3 linked regions of the Homo sapiens genome follow. The protein of the gene in region 3 interacts with the protein of the main gene of each other region in a pairwise test. Each region holds a gene or a part of one and is shown on either strand. Other genes may lie near its edges.

Region 1 (7,035 bases), on a different chromosome or scaffold from region 3:
TGGAGACTGGGGTCTGGCTTAGTCCTACACCCTAGTACCTAAGGGCAATGGCCTCTGACGGGGCTGAAGGAGTTTGTAGCAACAGTGAGGCTTCAGCCTGCAAGAATAGGGGGCCCCAGGCAATGTGATTTCCTACGACACTGGCTGCTTTTGCCTTTGCTTCCCCCACCAGCCTCCTCTGACTGCTGAGCTGCTCAATTTGTCGTCCGTGGTGACAGGCAGGGGTGCGTTTCAGCCCCCGCCCACCCCCGGCCACAGCCCATCTGACGCTCGGCCTGCGGAATCCCTCCGCTGCCTCCCTCCTACCCTGAGCTCTTCTTTCTCTCCAGTCAGCACTGTCTTTCCGCTGGCTTTCATCCTTCCTCCTACACTGTCTCCCACACCAGCCTAGACAGAAAAAACAACCTCAGGTCATCCGAGCATGCCTGTTCCTTGGTGCCAGACCAAACCAAACCCATCTCTGCTTCTAACCAGGACATTAGGAGGTGACCTGGTCCCCGAGCACCCCTGGTGAGGACGTGGCCACCCAGTGCTCCCTGCTGGTGTCTTGGGGCTGTCCCGGCTACAGGCCCCACACAGCATGGCTGCCACAGAACCTCCTCTTCCCACCTCTGGACTCTCCCAGAGCATTCTCTACCCTTCCCAGAGGAGACCTGTTGACCTGGAAACTGACTCACATCGTCTCATCTTCTCTTCTGGTCTAGATGTTCCCCACAGGTAGAATATCTGTCTGGCTCACCTTTGCATACCCCCCAGTCTCGATTTGCTGGATGCATGCACAGAGGTGACAAGATCGAGTGCACTCTGGGGGGCGCCTGATGCAGACCTTCATGGCCTCCCCCTAGTGCCCAGGCTGGACCACTGCAGCTCAGACCCTCGGGCTCACCCGCTGTGATTTCATCGGCACTGGGAAGGAAACTGTCTCGGGAGGAGAGATTCACGGGACTGGGGTCGGGGTGCAGGACCTATGAGGACAGGACACAGGGCCCCCCCGCCCCTCACTTTCCTGGCTGAGCCTTCACTGACCTTCATATTTGTAGGACGACTTATTCAGGGGATCGGCCAGGAAGCAGGAGCAGAACAAGGACACCAGCGGGAGCTCCTTCATCTTCTCTTTGTAGGCTGCGGAAACACCCAGTCAGGTGAGGATGGCGCCTCTCCTAGCCTCAGAAGTCAGCGTCCTCACGGGTCTGGGGCTCTGAGCAGCCCAGGGTTCCATAAAGGCACTCAAACCACGCAGGCACACGCCAAGCCTGGGGATCCAGGCCTTTCGCCCTGAGCCGTGCTGTTCAGGATCCCTGTGTGGGATTCGAACCCACTCCTGTCTCCTGTGGAAACCTAAGCCTTCCAGAGCATCAGATCCTTCTCCACAGTATGTCTCCTCCCCTTCCAGACCAGAAAGCAAAATGCCCTCATGGAAAGGTCCCAAGCACCAGTGCCTCAGCTCTCCATCCCCCAACATCTGCCCCAGGACATTCCGATTCTTTTTCTCCAGGACACAGGAGACCCACACTCCATTCTACTCCAAATACCTGGCAGCGCTGGCCTGCAGGGTTAAGGAGCTGGATAGGAGGGGACCGTCCTCACCACCATCCCTCTGGTCTGCCCCTCACAAGGTCAGGCTATAAGCCTTCTCTGACCTTTCCAACACAGTGCACAGAGCCTGGGGGTCGCTGGTGTCCCCAAAAGCTGGAGCATATCCCCGCCACCCTCTAGTCTATCTGTGTTTGGGATGTCAGGGGCCAGAGCTGTCCTGGCTCCTGAAAGTCCCTCTCCTCACCGCCTTGGGGCCCGTGTGTCTGGCTGCTCAGGTTGCAGCCCTTAGCTGACCCCTAGCACAGCGCAGGTGTTGCCCCCATCCTCATTTGCTTGTACAATTTTTTGTTGAGATGAGGGTCTCAATATGTTGCCCAGGCTGGACTCAAACTCCTGGGCTCAAGCGATCCTTGTGCCTCAGACTCCTGATACTGGGGACTATAGGCATATGCCACTATACCTGGCTTCCTTTTACAGATTTGAAAATACGTGTAACTGCAAAAATAATATATAGGCATCATAAAAACTTAAAAAAAAACACACATATACAGATGAGCAAAAGGAAGAAAATCTCAGCTGTGACACACCCCCCACCACTTGTTCAACTTGTCGCCTGTGGTGACAGGCAGTGGTGTGCCTCCCGCCACTGCCTGCATGCCCCCAAGCCTCCCATCACTACCTGCACCCCCCCACACACCCCGTGTGCTTCCTGCCAGCTGTGTTCTTCCCTGCTTCTGTGAGTCCATGTTGGGTGAGGGCAGGGGGAATAGCCTACGCCCCTTAACACATGGTTTTTGTACCTACCAGCAAGGGTCATGTTTCTGGGATCTGGTGGCTGAATCTAGCTGAAAGTTACAGAGTGGGTCTGTCACCAGCTTGGGACGCTGTCACCAACCTGAGAAAAGGGGAGGACAGGATTTTACCATCGATGGATTAGACAGGTTATTCTCATAAGAAAGGTCTTTATACACTGGGGAGGGAATCTCAGGGGTACCTCATTTGCTCTTCCTCCAGGCCCTCTCCCCACCAACTCTCCCTGGGGGTCCCCTACCCCGACCTCCCTCCCACAATGATGCTAAACAAGCTCAGATTCCATGAACTAATGATACTTCATAATTGGCTTTCCAGTCTCAAGCCCCCTAGCACATGCAAGCGTGGGTTTCCCAAAAACGTATGGATCAAGGGGTGCTCATCTGTCTCCCTCCATAGCTCAAGAACCTGGCCCAATTCAAGGGTTAGGGTGAGAAGCAAATCCTCCTGCAGAATCAGCTGGGAGGCATTCATAAAATAACTGTGTGTCCTGGACTTCTCCCCGCACATGCCCCAGAAGTCTTTGGGCCAATTCTGATATGGGAAGAGAGGGAATTGGACATAGGATGTTAACAGGCCTCTTCAGATGCCTCTCACCTTCCCTTTCCCAAGACGACTGACCTAAGCTGTGTTTGACCCTATTTAAGACAATCCGGGACACAGGAAAGAAAAACATTAAGGAATCATGTCGTCATCACAGGGCCAGCCAGCACACCACCAGAAATCAGCGTGAGGAATTGCTGTGGGACACAGAGATAGGGCTCCACACCACCAGAAATCAGCATGAGGAATTGCTGTGGGACACAGAAATAGGGCTCCACACCCCCAGCATTTGCCAGGGAGCCTGGGAGGTGTCCCTGGTGTCGGTAGCACCTGAGCAGTGCCTTGAAGGATGAGTTAGAATCAGACAGGAGCTGGCAGGAGGGCATTGTGCAAGGGAACATCACGGCCAAGGGTCGGGGTGAGAACGCCACTCAGTGTCCGTGGGATCAGGTCAAGCTAGTTGACGCTAGATCAGAAAGTGGAAAGAGGAGGGGGCGGGGCAGGAGACAAAACAGGAGAGTCAGGGAAGGAGCAGATCTGGGAGGATCAGAGGGGTGGAGGTGATGGGAGCCCATGAAGGCTACTACAAAGAGAGTGAGGAGCAGCCAGCAGTGAGTGGCCATCCTCAGGACCATTTGATCCTCGGTCACCCTCTGTGGTCACTGTGCCAGGGGAGGGTGGCGAGAGCCAGCAGGCTCACTGCCTACATCCTTGCCAGCCAAAGAGACTCTGAGACCCACTTCAAACCCCTTGCCTTTCTGTGCTGGCTGGAGACTGGCAGGAGGAGGTAATGGGGCAGTGAACTCAGCTCTGGCTTTAGGGCTAGACCAGTGTGGGGTCAAATACAAGTATCACCTCTCTTACCAGCTCTCGCTAGTCTCTTTCTCCATCTTAATCCTGCACAGAGCTGTACAAATTAAATGAGAAAAACCCATGCATAGCATCCAGCAGACAGGAAGCACTGAATAAATGTTAGTCTCTTTGCCCTGTCTTTTGCATCAGGACAGCTATCAGGTGCCACATGCCTGCTTCAGAGCCATTACCTCTGGACCCACAAGTAAGGACTGTTGTTGCCATGTGCGGATGGGGAAACTGAGGCTCAGAGGGTTTATGTGCCTGCTCAGGGCAATGCAGCTAGCAAGTTAGAGTGCCCATTTGAACCGAGGTCCAGCTGGACTTAAACTGCTTTGTTCTCCTTGTTCTTGTTGTTGTGCTTTGGAGCCAGAGGCCCCTGTCATTGCAGCACAATGGGTCTTCTCTCTGCAGAACTAAGCTGGTCCTGACGGCACCAGTGAGTCCCTGAACAGAGAGGCAGGCCTGGTGCCTGCATGCGACTTCCCTGGTCATGACACCCCATCCCGCAGTCTCTGCTCATGGCCAGGCTGACTGACAAGTCACTGGCAGAGTTAGTAAGCCCTTGCCAGAGTGGCAGTGGCCTTGGACTTCTACCTGGGGAAAGGATCAGAAGTGGAAGCCTGAATAGGTGGAGGGGAGGCAGAGAGGGATGCCTGAGAAAGAAGGCAGATGGAGTAGGAGCAGGCAGTTGGAGTTATGGAATGTGCCTCCAGCCCGAGCTAGAAATGATGATAGGACCCTGTGCTCAGGGGGCACTCGACACCCACCACATTATCCTAGTCTAACTTTGCATGAAGCTGGCTTAGGCTGACAAGACAGGCATCATCAGCTTTGCTTTCAGATGAAGAACCTGGGGTTTGGAGAAGTTCAGACGCTTGCTTAAGGTCACACAGCTCTAAGGGTGCAGAGCTGGGTCTAGTCTCCAGGTCTCTCGACTTGTAAGCTCTTCCATTGTAACCAGTGGAAGAACTAGATACTCACTAATGCTTTCTCTATGGTCCTGAGGACTCACAGAAAGCCAGCCTGGCCTGGGGATATGAGTTAACTTTAAAATATGTGGTAAGTGCTTTCTACATGGAAGGAAATGGGCTAGGAGTTTTAGGAACACAGAGAAGGTCAGAAAGCCAGAAAAGGAAAACCAGGGCAAGAAACGAGATGTTGTAGAGGTGGGCAGAGGTATGCATGGTCATGATCAAGGGATTTGCAATGGAGACCTCTCAGTGTTAAAAATGTGTGCTTACTGAGCAGCTGCTATGTGACAAACTCACTTTAATTTTCGTAATAGCCTCGTAAGGCAGGAATTACTATCCCCATTTTATAGAGAATGAAATCGAGGCTCAGGGAAGCTAAGTGCCTTTTCAAGGCCATTCAGTACAGTAGGTTAAATAATGTCCCCTACATGCATACATGCTCATCCTAACTCCTACAACCTGTGAATATGAGCTTATTTGGAAAGAAGGGCTTAATGAAGGATCTCAAGAAGAGACATTCCTGCTTGCCTGAGAAAGCCTTAAACCCAATGGCAAGTGTCCTTATAAGAGAGACTGAGAGAAAAGGCCATGTGCAGACGGAGGCAGAGATGGGAGTAAGGCAGCCACAAGCCAAGGAACCTTTGGGGCCGCCAGAACCTGCAAGAGACAAGGACAGATCCTCCCCTGGAGTCTTCAGCAGAGTTCAGTCCACTGACATCTCAGCTTTGAACTTCCAGCCTCCCGGTTAGTGGTAAAGTGATGCAGTAGCCCCGGGGAAACTAATGTCCTCAGGAAGTGACAAAGCCAGGGCTCAAACCCATGGTTTTTTTCACCTCAGGTACCAGCATTCATACATGGGCTGATTTATTCCTCAAAATGATCTATGTGGCCAGGCGTGGTGCCTCATGCTGTAATCCCAGCACTTTGGGAGGCTGAGGTGGGCAGATCACTTTGAGGTCAGGAGTTTGAGACCAGCCTGGCCAACATGGTGAAACCCCATCTCTACTAAAAATACAAAAATTAGCCCGGCATGGTGGCGCATGCCTGTAATCTCAGCTACTAGGGAAGCTGAGGTAGGAGAATCACTTGAGCCTGGCAGGCGAAGGTTGCAGTGAGCCGAGATCGCGCCACTGAACTCCAGCCTGGGTGAGAGAGTGAGACTTTGTCTCAAAAAAAAAAAAAAAAAAAGATGATCTATTTACTTGTGCCTGTGGGTCCATAGGGCCCTTATAAATCCTCATGCCAACAGTCACATCATTTCTTTTGCACTCAAGACCCAAAAGATATGCCCAGGGGACATTCTGAGAAAGGACACAGAAGATAAAAAGGTGGGAAGCAGAGGGCACAGAGATGAAAGGAGTCTTTGCCACTGGGTGGCGCCAGCCATGGCAGGAAACCCAACTTTATCCCTAATAACCTGTGGCATCTGCGCCCAGTGGGGCCAGTCACATGTCCCTCCCCAGCACCTGGCCTGGTTGTGTGATGCTAGGTTGTCTTGTGGGGTTTGTTAAATGGCCATGGTCATGTTATCATGCCACAGCAATATACAGCCTGCAAGGGAGCGAGGGCCACCAAACCTCTCCTGGAACTGTCAAAGAAGGACAGTAAAGGTGTTATGCCCAAGGTCAGAGCACACAGAGTGCCAGGGATTCAGGTGGCATGATGAAGATGAAGAGACAATAGAGGCCATAGGAAGCATGAGGCAAGGAGTGCAAATCCTCAATGGGAGATTCTATCCAAGACGTCAGCCAGCAGAGCAATGGAAGGCAAAACCCAGTGCAGAAGCAAACCTCCATCCCCATCCCTCAGAGGTTCCTTATGTGTTTTCTGTTAGGTGAGAGCCAATCCTAGCCCTTCTATTGCCCCTAAGGAAGACCAGGAAATTCATTGCATCCAGCAGCAACAAAGATCAAAGGAGCCCCAGACAGAAGGTCAATGTGGCAGTCATTCAGCCAATATCCAGAACCAGAGCTAGAGCTCAGGATGGCAGGCCCTCCAGCTCCTGCCTGGTGGTCACTGTCAAGCACTTCTGATGGACACAAACTGGTTGGTCAAGAGCCAAGGCCTCCCTGGGCAGCTGAGCCCCTGTGCTGGCAGGGATTGATCCAGTGGAGCAGGTAGAGAGAGGACTCTATTTATTTATTTATTTATTTATTTAGTATATAATTCTGTGCCAAGCCCTCTGCTAGATCTTCAGATGGCAAAGATTCGAGTGTGGCCTCATCCCAGACTGTGATGAGGTTACTATGCAATTGAGGTTCTGCAGTGCCTATCACCTTGCAATGACTGTGAACCTGACTGTGTGCCAGGGATGTGGACT
Region 2 (4,202 bases), on a different chromosome or scaffold from region 3:
GTGTTTGTGTTTTTTGTCTTAGATTTTTTTCTTAATCAAGTTTTTCCAGAAGAGAGTAGCTTTAGGAAGAGAATAAACACATACTTTTAAGGTATTATCTCAGACTTTAGGCGCATTATGATCATATCAGTAGCACCCATGTACTGAATAAGTGAACTCAAAGAAAAGTTATGTTGGGCAACTACCTCAAAGTTTTGTTATCTCTGCTTGCAATTTTTGTTCAGTCATTGCACAAGTGCTTGAGGGCTTACTGCATGTGAGGCTCTGTAGACTAAGTATTAATGAACTTTCTTTTTTGTCCTTGCAGTAGCAGGTACAGCTTTGATCTCAGTTTTCTGCCAAATGAATGGTTCTGTGTTTTGTGCTCATTCGTTTACAGAGATCCCTCTGAACCACCTTGGAACCAGAAGGTGTGTGGTCTGAGAACGATAAATGGGCTGCTCTCTGCCTCTCTCACAGCAGTTCTGCCCCTCCTTGGGACCACTCGTTTTCTGCATTCCTGGCCCATCTTCTATATATCTCTGGTCCAGATTCCAGAGGAAACCTGTTTGACTTGAATAGATGCCATTGCCCTTATTGGGCCTTGCCTCAGGAGTTCCTCTGTGTATCTCTGGTCCAGATTCCGGAGGAAACCTGTTTGACTTGAGTAGATGCCATTGCCCTTATTGGGCCTTGCCTCAGGAGTTGCTGGTTAGCCTATGAAGGGGTTCCCTTTGGGTTGATGACATTGCTCCCATCCAGAAAGTGGCTACTTCTACCCTCCTACTCCCACCACTCTGCATGCAGGAGCTGTTATCATCAAAAGGGAATGTCCACTGTCTGCTCTGTACCAGAGAAGTGCTAGGCTTCATAAATATTGGTAATCGATACCTGAATGGGATGAAAATTGGCAGGTCCTGGGATGGATGGCCTGGTTCATCTGCATCAGAACTGGAAAAACAAAATCACACCAAATTGCAGACTTTTTTGGAAGAGCGTGTTAGACAAGGTTTGTGGATTGTTTGATTTTTACCAAGAAAGAAAGCTTTCTCCTAAGAGGGTAAGATTTCTACTTGAGTGAGCTCTAAGAGGAGTCCCAGTTTGCAAGAGATATTATTACAGTTCTCATCTGTGCGGACCAGAAAGTTTTCCAAATTCATGCATTTCAGTTATCTAACAGATATTTACTGAGCATTTACCATGTTCAGTAACCAGGGCCCTGGGAATATAATAGGAGAAGGCAGATGAGATCCTTGCCTTCACCAAGCTTATGTTTTTCTATTTTAAGTAAAATTTGCCATGACAAAATTTCTATCAGCGGAAGAGCCAGTAACTCTTATTGTAATAGGTTTTACCCAGTTTTAGAAAAGGAAAGTAGCTAAACTCTTGGTTCCTTGGTGTGTGTTTTTGTTTGTTCATTTCTAGTACTTGTCTATGTCTTTGGGGTAATTTTTGATTTAGAATTTTGTAGAAATTACTCGGCACAGTGTAGTTGAGGTGAATATAGGCAAGAAGGCTTAGGAAGCCTACAACAAAGGAATCTGACACCAACTTTTGAGATTTATTCAGTCCAGCCAAGAGAATATATTTATGGTCAAACTAGATCTTGGATTACAGCTCCAAAGACCCTTGGGCTGACAGAGCAGGTTCTCATTTCTCAGCTCTTTCCCTTATCACTTGCAGTGAACTCTGCCCCCAGGAGCAGAGTATCCAGTTCTGTGTCCAAGCACTCTATGAATCTTTACCCTTGTTGAAGAAATACTCAGAGACAGAAGCATTTAGAAAAGGAAAAGTTTACCTGCAAAGAGAGCAAGAGAATGACTGGCTTGCCTAATAAAAAACGTAAGTATTTGAAGGAAAAAATTAAAAACTGCCAAGGTTTCTGAGTTTGCATTAGACTGTTCACGGTGAAAAACAGTAACTGCCTCATGTAATTATTGTATTCATAAAGGTTATGGCAAATCTTCAGATGTAGTACAGGAAAAACCAAGGATAAAATTTCTTAGGGAGTCCAGGTTTATGGGAAACATTCAAGGTTTTATTGTTTTTTAGATCATCAACAGTTAGATGACCCTATCATTTTTGTTTTGTCTCAGGGTGCAACGTCTTTCTTTTCTGATGGTGATTGATATAGTTTGGCTGTGTCCCCACCCAAATCTCATCTTGAATTCCCATGTGTTGTTGGAGGGACCTGGTGGGAGGTAACTAAATCATGGGGGCAAGTCTTTCCCGTGCTGTTCTTGTGATAGTGAGGAAGTCTCACGAGATCTTTTGGTTATTATAAGAGGGAGTTTTCCTGCACAAGCCCTCATTTTGCCTGCTGCCATCTATATAAGATGTGATTTGCTGCTCCTTGCCTTCCGCCATGATTGTGAAGCCTCCCCAGCCATGTGGAACTGTAAGTCCAATAAACCTCTTTTGTAAATTACCTAATCTCAGGTCTGTCTTTATCAACAGCATGAAAACAGACTAATAGAATGATATAGGAAGTTCTTAGTCTTACTGAAGCAAGGGAAAGTGACATTTTGCTTCTACACCCTCCAGAATTCATAAGCTCCAGAAGGAAAGAGGACCCAAGGGAAAAACGTGATTGCAAAATGTGTTCTTGTCCTCTGCCCAAGTGATTAACCTTTGCTCCAGTGGTTTTCAAACCTGGCTGCTGTTAGAATCACCTGGCAGTGTTTAAAAATGACTGATGCCCAGCATTTTAACTTAAATACCAATTTGGTCTGGAGTGGAGCCTGAGTATGGATATTTAAAAAAGTAACTCCTCCTCCCCAATCCCCCGTAATTGTAATGTGCAGCCAAGATTGAGAACCACTGCTTTGATCAGTGCACAAAACTGGATCCTCTACTAATGACCGTGGTTTTTTCTTAGGCTTACTTACAGATTGATTAAGTTATGCCACTTTTGTAGATCCTTGAAATTCTGTGCACTTTCTTTCTTTCTTTTTTTTTTTTTTGAGACAGAGTCTCGCTCTATTGCCCAGGCTGGAGTGCAGTGGCGCTATCTCAGCTCACTGCAAACTTCACCTCCCGGGTTCACGCCATTCTCCTGAGTAGCTGGGACTACAGGCGCCCACCACTGTGCCCAGCTAATTTTTTGTATTTCTAGTAGAGACGGGGTTTCACCACGTTAGCCAGGATGGTCTTGATCTCTTGACCTCGTGATCCGCCCACCTCGGCCTCCCAAAGTGCTGAGATTACAGGCATGAGCCACCGCGCCTAGCCTGTGCACTTTCTTAAAGGAAAACTGGAGAGGAAGAGATCTCATGTTTTCTATTCACTCCACTGCTGCTTGGTCCAGTGCAGGAAATATTGCTGTTATTTGAAGTCCTTCCTAAAACAAAAGCTCAGATCTTTTGGAGGTTGCCCTTCTAGGCAGGTTTTCACCAGTCAATTTTGATTTGGGGGGCTTAACAGAGTAGGAATGATCTTGCAGGTTTATTACATCTGAATTTAAGACTACTCACCTAGGCTGGGCGTGGTGGCTCACACCTGTAATCTCAGTGCTTTGGGAGGCCAAGGCGGGAGGATACCTTGAGCCGAGGAGTTCAACACTGCAGTGAGCCATGATCACACCACTGCATGAGTGAGACTCCATCTCAAACAAAAAAAATAGACTACTCACTGTTTACATAGCTTTGTACCATATAAAAACTTGTTTGAATAAAATATTGATAACAATAGTGATGTTGGTTTAAGATTCATGTTTCAGTTGTTTCACTGATTTTTGAATTGATACATAATAGCTATGCATAATTATGGGTTCCCTGTGATAATTCGATACATGCATACAGTGTGTAATGAGCAAATCAGGGTAGTTGGGATATCCATCACCTCAAATGTTTATCATTTCTTTGTGTTGGGAACATTTCACATCTTCTCCTGTAGCTATTTTGAAATATACAATAAACTAGTGTTAACTGTAGTCACTCTACTGTGCTATCAAACACTAGAACTTATTCCTTCTGTCTAACTGTATTTTTGTATTTGCTAACCAACCTGCTGCCCTCTGCTCTGTCCCCTACCCTTCCCAGCCTCTGGTAATTATTATTCTACTCACTACCTCCATGAGATTAATTTTTTAGCTCCCACATCTAAGTGAGAACATGGAATATTTGTCTTTCTGTTAAGTGAAATAACTCCCTTAACATAGTGTCCTTCAGTTTCATCCGTGTTGCTGCAGATGATAGGATTTCATTTTATTATGGCTGAATAAT
Region 3 (7,035 bases):
ACTCCCTAAAATGTAATTTTCAAGCCAGGCGTGGTGGCTCACACCTGTAATCCCAGCACTTTGGGAGGTCGAGGCAGGCAGAGCACCTGAGGTCAGGAGTTCGAGACCAGCCTGACCAACATGGAGAAACCCCGTCTCTACTAAAAATAGAATATTAGCTGGGTGTGGTGGTGCATGCCTGTAATCCCAGCTATTTGGGAGGCTGAGGCAGGAGAATCTCTTGAACCTGGTAGGCGGAGGTTGCAGTGAGCCAAGATCACGCCATTGCACTCCAGCCTGGGCAACAAGAGCGAAACTCTGTCTCAAAACTAAATAAATAATAAATAAAATAAAACGTCACTTTCACACTAATGCTGTCTAAGAGCCTGCTTCTGGTGGAGCTGAATCAGAGAACCCCTCAAAAGCAACAATTTTTTTTTTTTTGAGACAGTCTCACTCTGTCTCCCAGGCTGGAGTGCAGTGGTACAATCTCGGCTTTGGAACCTCCCCCTCTGGGGTTCAAGCAATTCTCCTGCCTCAGCCTCCCAAGGAGCTGGGATTACAAGCACCCGCCACCTCACCCCGCTAATTTTTTATATTTCTAGTAGAGATGAGGTTTCACCATGTTGGTTAGGCTGGTCTCAAACTCCAGAGCTCAAGTGTTCTGCCCACTTTGGCCTCCCAAAGTGCTGGGATTACATAAGCCACCATGCCTGGCCATAAGCAACAATTCTATCAGTGCATCTCCAAGGACTTATGAAAACAGGGCAGGAACAGCTGCTCCTGGACTCTCAGTTTCCCCAGATGGAAGCAGAGAAACAGCAGCCTTGCCTTGTCCTTTCTGTTCTCCCCTTTTCCAGCCTACGGTATCTTTCACACAGCAATTCACTAGAAATGAGAAGTACATTATTGCAAAATTCTCATCTTCATATGACCCCATAATCAGCTGAACTGGGTTCACCCTGAGATGTCCACAGATCCTGGCCAAATGTTGCATCAGTATTTGCAAATTGCCAGAATAAATCATAACTTGCTACGCTACTAAAGTCAGCGTGAGCAACAAGATACAGCCTGACACGGGGCATAAATGGAGGCACAGGCACCAGAAAGAAAGTCAAGTCTTGTGTGATAAAATTCATCTTCATTCTCTACATTGCGATTGAACATAGAGTCGTTTTCTAGTGTGTTTTAGGCATATAAATACAGGCTGGGGACATCATACCTGTGCTTACAGATATTTTACTTTTATTTTATTTATTTACTGAAACAGGGTCTCGCTCTGTCACCCAGGCTGGAGTGCTGTGGCGCAATCACAGTTCACTGAAGCCTCAACCTCCTGGGCGCAAACGATCTTTCTGCCTGAGCCTCCCAAGTAGCTGGGACTACAGGTGCACACCACCACGCCTGGCTAATTTTTGTATTTTTTGTAGAGATGGGATCTTACCAAGTTGTCCAGGCTGGTCTTGAACCCCTGGGCTCAAGTGATCCTCCTGCCTCATCTTCCCAAAGTCCTGGTATTACAGACGTGAGCCACTGCGCCCGGCAAAGATATTTTATTCTGTTTAGAATTGTGATGATACAAATTTGAACTCAAAAAGTACATTTTAAGAAATTATATAATACCCACTGGGATGGCTATAATTTAAAAAAAGAAAAGTAAGTGTTGACAAGGATGTGGAGATATTGGAACCCACATATATTACTGGAAGGAATATAACATGATACAGCCACAATGGAAAATGATTTGGCAGTTCCTCAAAAAGTTGAACATAATAGTCACCATATGTCCTAGCAAATCCACTTCTAGGTACATACTCAAGATAATTTACAGCGCGGAGACAAACAGATACTCCTACCACAGTGTTCCAGCACCATTACTCGCTTTAGCCAAGAGGTGCAGACAACACAAATGTCCATCAAAAGAAGAACGGGGCCAGGCACAGTAGCTCAAGTCTGTAATCCCAGCACTTTGGGAAGCTGAGGCGTGTGGATCACCTGAGGTCAGGAGTTCGAGACCAGCCTAGCCAACATGGTGAAACCCCCTCTCTACTAAAAATACACAAATTAGCTAGGCATGGTGACGGGCGCCTGTAGGTCCAGCTACTCAGGAGGTTAAGGCAAAAGAATCACTTAAACCTGGGAGGCGGAGGTTGCAGTGAGCTGAGATTGTGCCACTGCACTCCAGCCTGGGCGACAGAGCAAGACTCCGTCTCAAAAAAACAAAAACAAAAACAAAAAAAAGAATGGATAAGCAAAATGTGGTCTATCCATACAATACGATGCTTTTCACCATGACAAGAAATGAAACATTGATGCATGCTACAGTACAGACAAACTTTGAAAACATTATGCTAAAGAGAAAGGAGCTAGTCACAAAGGATCACATAGTGTATGAATCCACTTACACAAAATGTCCAGAATAGACAAAATCATAGACACAGAGAAGCATATGAATGGTTGGAAGGGCCTGGTGGGAAAGTGGGAAATGAGGAGTGACTGCTTAATGGGTACAAGATTTTCTTTTAGGGTGATGAGAATGTTCTGGAATTATGTAGTGGTGATGGTTATACTACCTCATGAAGATACAAAATGCCAGTGAATTGGACACTTTACAAGGGTGAATTTTTGGACTGTGAATTATATATCAATAAAAAAAGAAAGAAAATAAATGATACAAGAGCTCAAAATAGAAAAGCTTCTCTTCCTCCTCCCCCTCACACCTCACTAGATCTCCCACCTCGTTTCTGATACTTCTGTGTTCCTCTCTCCCATTAGATTTCATATCTTTCTCAGAAAACGTTCCTGACGTGAATTGTGTTCGTAGTGCTAGGGTAGCAGACATTTCCCAAGCCTACTATCATGGAATAAAAACGTTTCAAATAGTTATCTTGCAAGAACACTTTGGAGGATACCTTTTTGAAAACCGATTATACCAGCACAGACTGCTAGCAACAACCTTCAGCAACTTTGGCTCTTTGGAGTAGGTTGCAGGAAGATTATGACTTGCTGAAAGGAAGGATGATTAAGCATCTAGATGCCAATTTATATTCTGCATTTGGCCCTTAAAGTCTGGATGAGTTCCTGTTTCAGCCGAATGCTGCCAAAAGCTCTAACTTTTTAATTTTTTTTTTTTTTTTTTTTTTTTGGAGACAGAGTCTCACTCTGTTGCCCAGGCTGGAGGGCAGTGGTGTAATCTCGGCTCACTGCAACCTCTGCCTCCCAGGTTCAAGCAATTCTCCTGCCTCAGTCACTTGAGTAGCTGGGAATACAGGCGCCCACCACAATGCCCAGCAAATTTTTGTATTTTTAGTAGAGACAGGGTTTCACCATGTTGCCCAGGCTGGTTTCGAACTCCTGACCTCAGGTGATCCGCCCACCTCGGCCTCCCAAAGTGCTGGGATTACAGATGTGAGCCACCTCGCCTGGCCCAAAAGCTCTAATTTTTATGAGAAACTCTGAGGACAGAATCTTAGTCAATTGTTAATGAATAAGCAACATTAGAAAAAAAATTCAATATTCACCTATTTTTGAGAATTTTAGAGTTATAACAAACTCTTGATTATATATATTCCTGAAGTACCTACTCTGCGTAGGTCCTGGTCCTACTCCCCAAATGGGTCACTGAAAAATTCACCCCCATTATTCCCCAAATCCCACCCTAGTTTTTCATCATGTCATATGGCAAACAACGCACTCTGTGCTGTTTTACACACCAGCTTCTTCAGAACCCGGAAGCACTTTAGAGGTTATCTCCCCTCATCCTCCACCCCCCAAAACACAGCAGTTTCCCCAATAACATTGAGAAAATGGGCTTTAAAGTTCTTCTAGGCCGGGTGCGGTGGCTCATGCCTGTAATCCCAACACTTTGAGAGGCCGAGGCGGGGGAATTGCTTGAGGTCAGGAGTTTGATACCAGCCTGGCCAACATGGTGAAACCCCATCTCTACTAAAAACAAAAAACAAAAAACAAAACTGAGCTGGATATGGTGGTGGGTGCCTGTAATCCCAGCTATTCGGGAGGCCGAGGCAGGAGAATTGCTTGAACCCAGAACCCAGGAAGTGGAGGTTGCAGTGAGCTGAGATTGTGCCACTTCACGCCACCCTGGGGGACAGAACAAGACTCTTTCTCAAAAAAATAAATAGGCCGTGTGCGGTGGCTCACGCCTGTAATCCCAGCACTTTGGGAGGCTGAGGCGGGCAGATCACAAGGTCAGGAGTTCGAGACCAGCCTGGCCAACATGGTGAAACCCCGTCTCTACTAAAAATACAAAAATTAGCTGGGTGTGGTGGTGCGTGCCTGTAGTCCCAGCTATTCGGGAGGCTGAGGCAGGAAAATTGCTTGAATCCGGGAGGCGAAGGTTGCAGTGAGCTGAGATTGCGCCACTGTACTCCAGCCTTGGTGACAAAGCGAGACTCTATCTCAAAAAACAAACAAACAAACAAACAAACAAATAAATAAAGTTCTCCTTGTGCACTTTAAGCAAAGGTGATCATGAAGCAGATCTCATTGGGAAAAACATCTCCTTTCTAATTATCTTACCTGTTTTCATTGAGGGAGCTTCAAGTTCATCGTGTTTATCTAGAAAATAGGAGGGAAGAAAAGGAATTACACTAATCATACAGGAACCTTGGGGACAGGAGTCCTCACGTCCTACTTATAGACATCCTGTTCTTCTTTGGGAAGCAGAAAAGAGAATGGCTTCTCCATTCCCTAGATGCTCCCTGGGTCCTCAGAGCATGGACAGAGCCTCAGATTACTCTTCTTAATAGTCCTGGAGTTTGATAGTATTTTTAATAACAAAAATATTTATGAATGACCCTGCTAACGCCCCCTCCAGTTTGATTCCTTGCCAGTCTTCTCTATCTTGACAAAGAACACCATTCACCCAAATTCTTTCTTTCTTTTATTTTTTTTGAGTCTTGCACTGTTACCCAAGCTGGAGTGCAGTGGCATGATCTCAGCTCACTGCAACCTCCGCCTCCCGGGTTCAAGAGATTCTCCTGCCTCAGCCTTCCAAGTAGCTGGGACTACAGGCGCCCGCCACCACACCCTGCTAATTTTTGTATTTTTAGTAGAGACAGGGTTTCACCATGTTGGCCAGGCTGGTCTCAAACTCCTGGCCTCAAGTGATCAACCTGCCTTGGCCACTCAGAATACTGGGATTCCAGGCATGAGCCACTGCACCTGGCCTATATTTCTATCTCCACAGTGGCACCATTTAGTCTAAGTTAAAATATCACCTACTTGGCCGGGCGCAGTGGCTCACGCCTGTAATCCCAGCACTTTGGGAGGCCGAGGCGGGCAGATCACAAGGTCAGGAGATCGAGACCATCCTGGCTAACATGGTGAAACCCCGTCTCTACTAAAAATACAAAAAGTTAGCCGAGCGTGGTGGCGGGCCCCTGTAGTCCCAGCTACTCGGGAGGCTGAGGCAGGAGAATGGCGTGAACCCGGGAGGCGGAGCTTGCAGTGAGCCGAGATCGCGCCACTGCACTCCAGCCTGAGGGACAGAGCCAGACTCCGTCTCAAAAAAAAAATAAAAATAAAAATAAAAATGAAATGAAATATCACCTACTCACCAGTCCCTGGCAACCACCAGTTGCTTCTGTGAGTTTGGCTTTTTTAGACTACACATATGAGTGAGATCCTGCAGAATTTGTCTTTCTGAGTCTGGCTTATTTTGTTTAGCATGATATATGCGGAGATGTTGATGAAAGGGTATAAGTTTCCAGTTCTAAGATGAAGAAGTTCAGGTGCTCAGCATGGTGGCAATGGATGTGCTAATTAATTTGACTGTGATAATCATTACACAATGTACAGGTGGATCAAATCATCAGATTGTATACCTTGAATATATACAATCTTCATTTGTCAATTTGATATTTTTAAATTTAAAAAGTCGTATTGCCTGAAACGCACCAACTCTTACTACATCTAGTCCCTTATTTTCCAAAAGCAGCCAGAGGCCGGGCATGATGGCCTGTGCCTGTAATCTCAGATGCTTGGGAGGCTGAGGTGGGAGGATTACCTGGGCCTGGGAGGTCAAGGCTGCAGTGAGCTGTGATTGCACCACTGCACTCCAGCCTGGGCAACCGAGTGGGACCCTGTCTCAAAAAAAAAAAAAAAAAAAAAAGCAGCCAGTGACCCTTCCAGCATATAAATAAAATCATGCCATCCTCCAGCTCAACTTCATCAGTGGGTTCCTGTTCTTTCAAAGCAGACTCTAGGACCAGTTCAAACACCCACAAGATCCTAGATGCTCTAGGCCCTGCCTTATGTCCTCCTTTCTGTGTCTCAATCATTCCAGGAACACTCACACTTCTGAGACTTTGCTTTTGCTGCTCTCTCTCCCTGGAGGGCTGTTCTCCAGATATCGGTGTGGTTGGGTCATTCTCATCCTTCATGCTTGTGGCAGATAGACCCTAAGGGGGCACTCAGGAGACTCAGGAGCCCTGCTTCCTGGTGTTCATGCCTTTGTCTAATCCCCTCACCTTGAGTGTGGAGATCTGTGACTTTCTTCTCACCAATAGCTATGGCAAAGGTGATGGGATGTTATGCTCTTGATTATGTTACATTACATAAAACTCTGTTTGCTAGGGCATTTGCTCTCTCTTTCTTCTCTCTCTCTCAATCTCTCTTCTTGCAAGTGCTGCAGAATCATTCTAGCATGAATCCTACAGCTATAAAGAACCAGATATTGCTATCAACCACAGGAGTGGAGAAATGGACCCTTCCCCAGTCAAGCCTCCAGATGAGCCAGATGAGAACACAGCCCTTGTTGACACCTTGATTGCATCCTTATGAGACCCAAAGCAGAGGACTCAGCTAAGCTGTGCCTGGACTCCTGACCCACATCAACTGTGAGATAATAAATAGGTGTTTCAGGCTGCTAAATTAGTGGTAATTTGTTATGCAGCTGTAGATCACTAATACAATGCCTCTCACAGTTATTCTCCATCTATAATGTGTTTTTTAATTACTCTGATAGCTTGCTCTTATTTCTTTCTTTCTTCCAAAGAAGAATGTGAGCTCCTGTTGGCCAGAGACCTGGTCTGT

The links.
Region 1: the proteins of VSTM1 (region 3) and STMN4 interact in binary tests that used the Homo sapiens proteins (3 or more experiments, as listed by UniProt).
Region 2: the proteins of VSTM1 (region 3) and SLC60A2 interact in binary tests that used the Homo sapiens proteins (3 or more experiments, as listed by UniProt).

The regions. Positions count from the first base shown.
Region 1 is NC_000008.11:27,241,371-27,248,405, forward strand, and holds part of STMN4 (stathmin-4), read right to left. Parts: intron 3,356-7,035; exon of another isoform or gene 3,220-3,355; intron 2,432-3,219; 5' UTR 2,354-2,431; coding exon 2,341-2,353; intron 1,123-2,340; coding exon 1,027-1,122; intron 388-1,026; coding exon 307-387; intron 1-306. UniProt on the Homo sapiens protein: Exhibits microtubule-destabilizing activity.
Region 2 is NC_000006.12:111,276,338-111,280,539, forward strand, and holds the end of SLC60A2 (sodium-dependent glucose transporter 1), read left to right. Parts: 3' UTR 1-3,668; downstream 3,669-4,202. UniProt on the Homo sapiens protein: May function as a sodium-dependent glucose transporter. Potential channels for urea in the inner medulla of kidney.
Region 3 is NC_000019.10:54,046,892-54,053,926, forward strand, and holds part of VSTM1 (V-set and transmembrane domain-containing protein 1 isoform 1 precursor), read right to left. Parts: intron 6,084-7,035; coding exon of another isoform or gene 6,008-6,083; intron 4,558-6,007; coding exon 4,519-4,557; intron 1,513-4,518; exon of another isoform or gene 1,424-1,512; intron 1-1,423.